2 linked regions of the Homo sapiens genome follow. The protein of the gene in region 2 purifies or fractionates together with the protein of the main gene of each other region. This does not show direct contact. Each region holds a gene or a part of one and is shown on either strand. Other genes may lie near its edges.

Evidence for each region. The genes of interacting proteins can lie anywhere in the genome.
Region 1: the proteins of GPM6A (region 2) and ZDHHC18 purify together in Homo sapiens (affinity purification with mass spectrometry; 2 studies listed by BioGRID and IntAct, with this or other methods). This does not show direct contact.

Annotation. Positions count from the first base shown.
Region 1 is NC_000001.11:26,825,118-26,829,916, reverse strand, and holds the start of ZDHHC18 (palmitoyltransferase ZDHHC18), read right to left. Parts: upstream 3,230-4,799; 5' UTR 3,113-3,229; coding exon 2,778-3,112; intron 1-2,777. UniProt on the Homo sapiens protein: Palmitoyltransferase that catalyzes the addition of palmitate onto various protein substrates, such as CGAS, HRAS and LCK. Acts as a negative regulator of the cGAS-STING pathway be mediating palmitoylation and inactivation of CGAS.
Region 2 is NC_000004.12:175,808,901-175,813,688, forward strand, and holds the start of GPM6A (neuronal membrane glycoprotein M6-a), read right to left. Parts: upstream 3,365-4,788; 5' UTR 3,328-3,364; coding exon 3,291-3,327; intron 3,290-3,290; exon of another isoform or gene 2,960-3,289; intron 1-2,959. UniProt on the Homo sapiens protein: Involved in neuronal differentiation, including differentiation and migration of neuronal stem cells. Plays a role in neuronal plasticity and is involved in neurite and filopodia outgrowth, filopodia motility and probably synapse formation.

The sequences.
Region 1 (4,799 bases), on a different chromosome or scaffold from region 2:
AAGACTTGAAATCTAAGACTTGTAGAGCCTGCAGGAACCACCAAGTCCTAGCCTCCTGATTTGCCAGAGGCTAACAGCTCTCCCAGGCCCACAGCTAGGTTCAAGGTCATCTAGCCAGCCAATGACAGAACTAGGGTTTCCAGCCTCCCAGCAAATACACTGTCAATTAATTCAAATACACTGTCAATTCATTCATTCAATAAGTATTGAGCACCTACTGCATACCAGGTGCGAGTTCTAGGCACTAAGGGTGCAACAGAGGAGAATGTCCTGCTCTCATGGGCAAAGACCAGAAACTAACAAGTATACCATAATATGTCAGGTGGTGGCAAATGCTTCAGAGAGCGATAAATGAGGGGAGAAGAGAGGTGCAGGAGGGGAGTGGTTTGCTATGCTGTGCGGATGGACAGGGGAGGCCTAATGTGAGAGAGTGAGCCATGAGGCCACCTGCAGGAAGGGGATTCCAAGCACTGGCCCAGAGGTAGGAGTGTGCACGGAGGATGACATGCCTGGAGGGAAGACGGGGACAGAAGACAGCAGGGGACAGAGGCCAGGGAGGATTCAGGCCTGAGTTAGAATCAAAAGGGCACTCTGGCTGTTGTGTGGGGGCGAGAAGTAAGGCAGAAGTTGGGAGCCCTGCTGGAGGCCTGTGCAACAATCCACCAAGCCAAACAAAGAAGCAAAGCCATTCATAGCAGGAAAGGCTTAGAGAGCACCTTACCTTTTCCCAGAGCAATGGGGAGCATCCAGTCCAGACCCAGGTGAGCTCTCGGCCCAAACCCAAACTCTTCTGCCAATCTACCAGCCCCCAATGAGGACAAGCGGGGACAAACTGCAACATGGTTCACGAGCTCTCCCCAAACCCAGAAGTCCTTGCTTTCTCCCTCGCTGGGGACAAAACAGTCACCAGTGAAGATACCCGGTCAACCCAGAGAAGGTCCTGCTTCTAGTTCAGAAGTTAGGCCAGATATCACACTGCAGGGTCATGTGGGTCAACCACGGCAAGTACTGCTTCCTCCTGCCTCGGCTGCAGCCCTGGGTGTGGGGACTGAGAGGGCAGCCCAGGGGATACTAGAAAAGGCATTTCCAAAACACTCATGTGGCCAGCCCAGGGAAGTGGATCTGAAACTCAGCCCAGAGCTGAGCTCTGGGCCCCCCAGAGCTTCTGCTTGTAAATCATCCCTGAACTTTTTATCCACCCTACTCAAAAAAAAGGGCAGAGTGTGTGGTTAAAGGGTAAAGGGAGAAGCTAATTTATAGGAAGTCTTCACCTTGCTTCAAGGGGAAACCCAAAGTTGCAGATACATGATCTGGCAGCTAGAAAGGGTACCTGGGGGCGGGTGTCTCTATGATAGCCTTACCATGGCCACATGCCCTTGGGAAGTGTTTTTTGATAAAGACAACACAAGTACTAATAGCAGCCAACATAGTGTGCTTGTTACTGGGCTAAAAGCTTGCATGTGTGACCTCATGCCACCCTCAGGACAACCTTACGGGGTGGGTACTATTATAAATCCCATTTTACTGATGAGGAAACTGGGGCACTGAGGGGGTGAAGTGACTGCCCTGAGGTCACGCAATTAGTGGGTGGTGGAGCTGGGATTTGAACCAGGTCTGTTAGAGTTCTTAACTACACTGTATAATTAAGAGGAACAACCACAAAGGATGGGGAGTTGGGAGGGGACAGCAGGGCTTATGAAGCAAGGGTGGGTGGGTGGGCGTGTGAGTGTGTGTGCAAGGAATCACAGTGCAGGTGGCTCAGAGGTGGGTGGAAAACTTCTAATACAAATATATGACCCTCCATCCATAAAATGGAGATTATGTGTGGGCCAATCCTGGGTCACCGGGGGATATGAAGAGGACAAAAACCTAGGGGGGCAAATATGACCTGTCACACGAAAGCACTCCGAAGTCTTTCCTGAAAAACAACAAGGCACCGCAGCTGTTGCTGATGTGGAACAGGCCAGAGGGACGTTCCAGAATGTTGAGCAGGGAAAGAAAGCCAGGTGGTCAGCAGGGGGGCCAGGGGCCTGGGAGCCGGCTGGGTGGAGGCGGGCGGGATCTGAGGGAAGGACAGGAAGCTCTGGAGAACCTAAGGAAGGTTCTGGAGAAGGAAAGGGGGCCCGAGAGGCCCAAAGATTTTGAGAAAAGATGCCTTGGGGCCTAGGGTGTGCGTGGCTGAGGGGAAGCAAAAGCGGGGTTGGTGTCTGAGACTAGAGAAAAGGAGGGGACCCTGGAGGGACCCGGAGAGGGCAGCGAGGATGACTAGGATGTTTATGGTGGGTGTGCACAGCCAAAGGACACACAAGATCTAGAAGTGGTCAGGAAGGGATACAAGGGTCAGAAAGAACTTGGGGGGTTGGCAAGAGATGGTCCAGGGATGGGTGAGCAGGAGGGGCCTGTTCAAGAAGCCCTGGGGCAGGTTCTGAGAGGGCAGCGAGGATGGGGGCCGTGGAGGGGCATGGAGGCTGGTGTTCCTGGCAGTGGCAGGCAGACAGGTGCCAGGGTGGGGTCAGGGAGAATGGAGGGGCTGGGAGGGTGGAGGGCACCAGCGCGGATGGGGTACCCAAATGGACCAAGGAGGATGGGGCATCTGGCGGGGATGGGGGTGCGCAGGGGCCAGGGGGGCAGACAAGAGGCCCGAGGAGGATCCCAAAGGGGCGGGGAGGATGAGGACCAGGGAGGCGAAGGGGAAGGCACGGAGTGCCCAGCAGGGATTGGGAAGGTGGGGTGCGCGGCAGGGGGCTGGGAGGGGGCGCCGAGGCAGCGGAACTCACTCAAAGACGAAGAAGAGGCCGGTGGTGGTGAGGATGAGCAGCAGCGTGAGCGCGAAGACGCCGCCGTGGCCGGCCAGCATGAGGCGGCCGCCGCAGTAGAAGCGATTGCGACCCGGGAACACCTCCCACTTGCGCCGTGGGCGGCGGCCGAGGCTCCCGCTCCCGCTGCCGCTGCCGCTGCCGCTGCTGCTCCAGCGCGGCGGGGCGGGGGCGGCGGGCGGCGCGGGCCCGGGGCCCGGAGTCGGGGACGCGGCGGGGCCGGGACGGCGCGCCCCCGGGGAGGCGGGCAGCGGGGCGGCCCCGGGGCTGATCTGCTGGTACTCGCAGTCCTTCATGCAGCCAGCCGCGGGCCTCGGCTCCGCGCCCCGCGGGCCGGCCGGGCCACTCCGGGACCGGGCCGAGCAGCGGAGGTGGCAGCGGCGGCGCGCGCGGCGCTCGCTCGCTCACTCACTGGGGCGGCCCCGCCATCGCTCCGCCCCCGGCCCGCCGCCACCGCCCGCCGCGGCCTCCCGCCGCAGCGCCCCCTCCGCCTGGGCCCGGGATGGCGCTTGGCCGGAGGCCCAGCTCTGACCCGCGGCGGGGCCCCGCAGGTCCCCGGCCCTCCCAGTCTCCCTTTTCCCTTCTGCACAAAGAGGGGGCCAGCAGACGCGCACTCGAGGGCTCTTTCTGTTCTGCAAGCAAGCCGTTTGTTGGGCGTCCACTGTGTACCAGGCACGGTGCCAAACGCCGAGATTCAGGTGGTGGACTTCGTGATCTACTTCTGGCAGTCTGTAATTCCCCAGGCTTCGCCCATCTCTGAGGGTCGAACTGACAGGCATTTGCAGAGGCAGGCAGGCGCGGGGAGGTGGGGCACACGATTTGCTTTGAAAGCCAGGACCTCTTCTACCTTGAAGTCCAGAGTGCCCACTGGAGGTGTGTGGCACACCCTCTGGCCTCGTTCACCAAGTTCTGTGTCCTGGGCCCAGGCCCAGATTTTCCTAGGTAGCACATAATGTAGAGGGGTCATGCCTGAGGGCCCCAGTGTTTTTTCAGGAATTCTGGGAGTATTCATTTTCTACTGCTGTGTAACAAGTTACCACAAATTTAAGGCTTAAAACAAACATTATCGGCCGGGCGCGGTGTCTCACGCCTGTAATCCCAGCACTTTGGGAGGCCGAGGTGGGTGGATCACAAGGTCGAGAGAGACCATCCTGGCCAATATGGTGAAACCCCGTCTCTACTAAAAATAAAAAATTAGCTGGGCATGGTGGCACGGCATCTATAGTCCCAGCTACTCGGGAGGCTGAGGCAGGAGAATTGCTTGAACCCAGGAGGTGGAGGTTGCAGTGAGCCGAGATTGTGCCATTGCACCCGGCCTGGTGACAGAGCAAGACTCCGTCTCAAAAAAAACAAAAAACAAACGTTATCTAACAGGTTCCAGGTCAGGAGCCAGAGAACAGCTTAGCTGGGTCCTCTGCTTAGTCTCACAAGGCTGCAATCAGGCTGCATTCTCATCTGGAGACTCAGCCAGGGAAGAATCCACTTGCAAGCCCATTTGGGTTATTGGCAGAATTAACTTCCTTGCGACTGTTTAACTGAAGAGGGCCTGGGATTTTTGCTGGGTGACTGTATAACTGAGGAGGGCCTGGGATTTTTGCTGGGTGTCTGCTGGAGGCCTCTCTCAGGATCCAAAAGCCACCTGCAGTTCCTAGAGATTATCACATTTCCTTGCCATGCAGGTTTCTCCTACATAGCCACTTAGTTTCTTGAAACTGACAATGAGGGTCTCTAGCTCCAGACTATGATGATAGAGTTTTATATAACTTACTATATATGTGACAGAGTGGCATCCCATCATCATTGCCATCTCCTATGGTTAAAAGCAAAGCACAGGAGCCATCTGCACTCAAGAAAAGGGAATCACACAAGGCGTAAATACCAGGAGGCAGGAATCATTGGGGGTCAGCTTAGGGTATGTCTGTCACACTGTGGTTACTGTAAAACCTAAGGAAAAGTGCAAGGAAAAAAAGAACTGGAGACTAG
Region 2 (4,788 bases):
AGCCAATTTATGAAGACTCCAACCTGCTGGCTCTTTCTGTCCCTTGCTGTTTTCTTTTTATCTCTATACAGTTTTGTTGCTCCCTTTACTTATTGATTCATCAGCCTTCCTCTGTAAAGCCCTCCTAATTCAGCAAGGCCTTCATTAGGGCTGTCCATGAAGAGATGGTCACCCACTTGTCTGGCCACCCGAATGTGTATTCACCAATTCACTCCTAATTAGAAACCCAAAAATCATTTACGTATTTTCTCGTAAGATTTGGCAAAATGTTCTAGAAACAGTTGCATGGCTACAAGTCATAAACGCCTACCTGTTAAATCTTCATCAAAATATCTTTATTCACTTTGCTCAACCCCTCTGTAGTAACTGGGGTCCTTGTTGCCATGATTTTGTGACAATGGCTCTTGATTTTGGTGACAGATGATGCTAGGTTTATTATGGCCATAGTAAAGACCAAATTCAAAACACTCTTTTCTTTTTTTCCTTTTTTTTTTTCTATACTAGAATATCATTGTTTTGGCTGCACACAAGATGAAGTAAGTGGCTTTCATTTAGAGGCCATGTTTTACCAAAAAATATGTTTCTTAAAATACTAGATTCCCCTCAGCATAATGAGATACTCACTTTTGGGGAGGGTGTCAGAAATTGCTGGAGCAACAGATTAATGATCCCCATTTCAGTTTCACATCAGGCATGGGCTCATTGAACACAATGGCTGGTGGGTGAAGTCACCCATACTGTTAAATTATCCTCTCTCTCTGACTGAACACATATGCTTAAATTAGGATAAAAGTTAGGACTATTCTCAATTGTCTTTTAAAGCTTGAGAGGGGAGTGGGCTCTCACTATGAAGAAAAATATATTTCTTAAGACGGATGATCTTTTTAAATGCTTAAACACCAAGTATATATATTTTCGAACATAGCAAATTGCAATTAATTAATGAATCCACTGAATTTTACCTTCTAGTTGAATTTGCAAGGTCATATGAGTAAACACTGATGTGAATTTTAAGTCTTGGTGACATGTAACAGGAAAGACAAGGTCTAAATTTTAAGAAAAGACTGAAAAGCCACTTACTTCTTGCAAATGGAAGAAAACTCTGTGCTATTTGAATTATTGTTTAAGAAAATCCTATGCAGTTTAAGAAAAACAGGATAAGAACTAACACAAAATGCTGCTTTTCTTTAGACAGATCATTAAGTCTCTCCACCTAAACTCTTGAAAAATCTGTAACGATTTTGTCTGCTTGTCAAATTGCTCCTCCAGTAATTTCACAGTTACAACCCACGCACATATCGACAGAGCATTTCGATTCAAATGTAACTTTCTAACAACAAACTTATATAGAAAAGGTGTCATAGGCGTAATTGAGAGGAACAGAAGATCAAGAGTGAAGAAAATTACATCTTCTTTTCTCAATTAAGAAAAAAACCTAAATCATAAATATTGTATTCATATACATTTACAAACTGATAGACCACTAAACGTTTTTTCTGATTTAAAACTGCTTTCCACCACTGCTGCTGGTGCATATATTAATGAGGAAAAACCCACTGTGACAGAAATCTTCCCCTCACGGCATAGCCACCTCCACCCCCATAAAAGAAAGCTTTTCAGTGTTACCTGAGAAAAAAACATCACAACTAATTACATCATTTTTCTTGGTTCCCGCATCTACCAAGGCTTGCTCAGACACATTCAACCTGTTACCACAATCCATGATTTAACTCAAGGTTTTATTTAGTGTAATGAATATCATTCCTCTATTTAAAATGCTGTTTATCTTTCCTTAAGCAAATTGATCGGCCAATAAGTATCATTATTAGGTATTACAAAAAAGATGTTGTCATAAGGTAATTTATTCTAAGTTAAAATAGTCCACTGAGATGTCTTGTAAGAACAGAAATTACCATTAAAATGTCCCATTTACAATCACTGATGAAAACTTGGGCTATTTGTGCATATAATAAAGGGAGCTGAGGTTTTTTAATTTAAAAATAGATCACATGCTATTAATGTAGATTTTTGTGTTTCTATTACAGATTATCATGAATAAGGGTACTAAGGACTAAAATTGGGAAATCAACTTATCTATTATCTCTTGCTTATATAAAACCTTCATGTATTTAATATCGATGGTCCTTTATTACGTGTGTGTGTGTGTGTGTATGCACCATATATGCCTCAAAGTATGTGTGTGTACATTAAGAGAAGAAACCCAGCATAGCTAAATGGCTAAAAATATGGTAACTATACTGTGCTTCCACCCTATATATTTTATCACATAAAATACAGTTTTTTACGATAAGTGCCTTTATATACATTTGAAATTAACTTTGACAGCTGAATCTTTTTCAACACTACTCTTGAATATTACCTTTATGTAGTATTACCTGTGTTACTGCTTCAGTACTAAGAAAATGAGACCATTTTCTCTGACATTACATAAGCCCGACAGCAGACGAGAGAAACGCTGCCTATCTGGGGTGAAAGCTAGCTCCCTCTGAAGCTACCATTTGACACGTTAAAACAATTCTCGAGTTGATTGAATCATTCCAAATTACCAATATTTGACCATTTCAACCTTCAAAAATGGAAATTTCACTTTAACTCATACAGCCAGATATACCTAGACAAGCTTTAAAAACACATAAAAAAATTTCCTTTAACATTATTACTCAGAAGTTGATTACAGTCAACTATATAGAAAGGAAAATCTTAACGCTTCCATACACCCTGAAAATTTATGAACTTTTGCTCCATCTGCTTAAACCTATATTGCATCCTCGTTTTTAGTTTTTATTTTTTAAAGATTGTTTTAAAAAGGTGCACCAATCAAAAGATAATTAATGGTCTTGGTCTTTGTTCTATCAGATGTCCATGCAAAGATATGGATAATGGTTCCATCACCAAATTTTTAACTAACTCCAAATATTGTATTTGTGGCTCACACTAGGGATCCCTTGACCCAGCTCGGCAAGTGTGAAATCACGAAATAAATGAAGGTTAACAAAGACTGGTCTAAGGAATAGTTCACTACAATACCGCAATGCTCTTCTCACTAATACTCGACTCTGCATTTCGGTACTTATATCTGAAAGATTTGCAAATAATGACAACATTCGTGCCAGACATTACTGCAAGTGAGGAACAGACTAAAGGAGAGGAAGGAACAAAATGCCTTCCAAGAGAGAAACATTCATTAGCCTTACTGGCAAGTGTCTAAAGCAAACAAGGAAACTGCAAAATAATTACTTAGTTACAAATAAACGCTTTTAGCACAGTACCTTTTTGTGTCTGTCCCTCTTCCATATTCTCTTCCATGGCTACCTTTCTTCAGTAGAATCTGGTACACGGAATTAATCAAAAGCTCAATTAGATGTTGGAAAAACTGGGGGTTTTTTTTTTTTTTTTTTTTTTTTTTTTTTTTTTTTTTTCCTGGGAAGCTCCAACAGCAGTGGCTTGGGCAAGTCCTCAGAGCTTAGCTCAGGCTCCCTCGTTCCTCTTGTTTGCTTGGAGACAGGCTGTCAAGTGTAATTTCATTCAAATTACTCTTCCGTGAAGATTATCAATTTTTCTTCTCAAAGCTGCCCATTGTGTACCACTGTAAGCAGGTATTCAAACAAATAGCCTGAGAATTTTGGGGGGAAATTTGGTCTGAATCCCAGGAGCAGAGACACTATGATTCACAAGTCTTGCTTTGCATTTAAAATGGGGAAAAGAAATTGAGGTTTGTATTGAAATCTGGGCTTTAAATTGGAAACAGGCTGAGCTGTGAACAGATGGAGGGGTGTCCTCCTAACATGAAGCCGACCACCAACCCGTAATTCCCCCCTTCATTCCAGAGTGGGAAAGCCCAGATTCCCGTCGGTTCTTTATGCTGCAGCAGTGGCTTCTCACCCAGTCAGATACGTTGCAAAAAAACTGTGTTTTCCTTTTCTCTCCTCACTAAGTATTTAGTTAATTTGATTTAAGGTGCCAAGAAAGGATGCAGTTATACCATCTCAGGGTTTATCTGCAAAAGTTTATTACTAAGACAGGACTTGTAATCCCACACCTTTGAGATTTAAAAAGAAATAGAAGCGTGGCTGTCAAAGGAGTGAGTATAAAGCTCTAAGCCTGAGAGATACATGTTTTAAGTAATTATTTTACTTAGTGCCATATGACTCTTAAGTAAAAGGGAGAAAACCACTGGAAGGAAAAACCCTATTGATGTCTTTGTTATTTATTGTTATGATTATAGCCCACGAAAGCTGCTGGTTTCCAATGAGAATCTCTTGAAAGGGAATTTCTTTAAAGGTCAGTGTTAGGGAATGAGAAGAGTGATGTAAGGGAGGAACAAATTTTAGATAAGAAACAAGAGGATAGCAATTTATAATGGGAATCTGCAAGCTGATTTGGAATGCAAATCACAATGCTGCAGTCTGGCGATAATTAGCATTTGTACTTCAGCCTACTGAGTGACAGGGCACAGTCCAAGAGTCTCAATACTTCACAAAAGGTATAGCAAGAAAATAAACAGTATCTCTTTCAAGGAGCATAAACCTTTCCTAGAGTAGAAAGAAAGGATCCTTGCCTCTGTCTTCATCTCCAAATCAGCCAGCACACACACACACAGGGACAGAAACACACACAGAGGGACAGAAAGACACACACAAGCACACACACGGAGAGGCACACACACACACAAGGACACACACACAGACATAACTGTAACTCTCTGCCTTTAATGAAAAATAGCTCACATCCTCATTATCCATAGCATACGTTTCTTGCATTATAGCT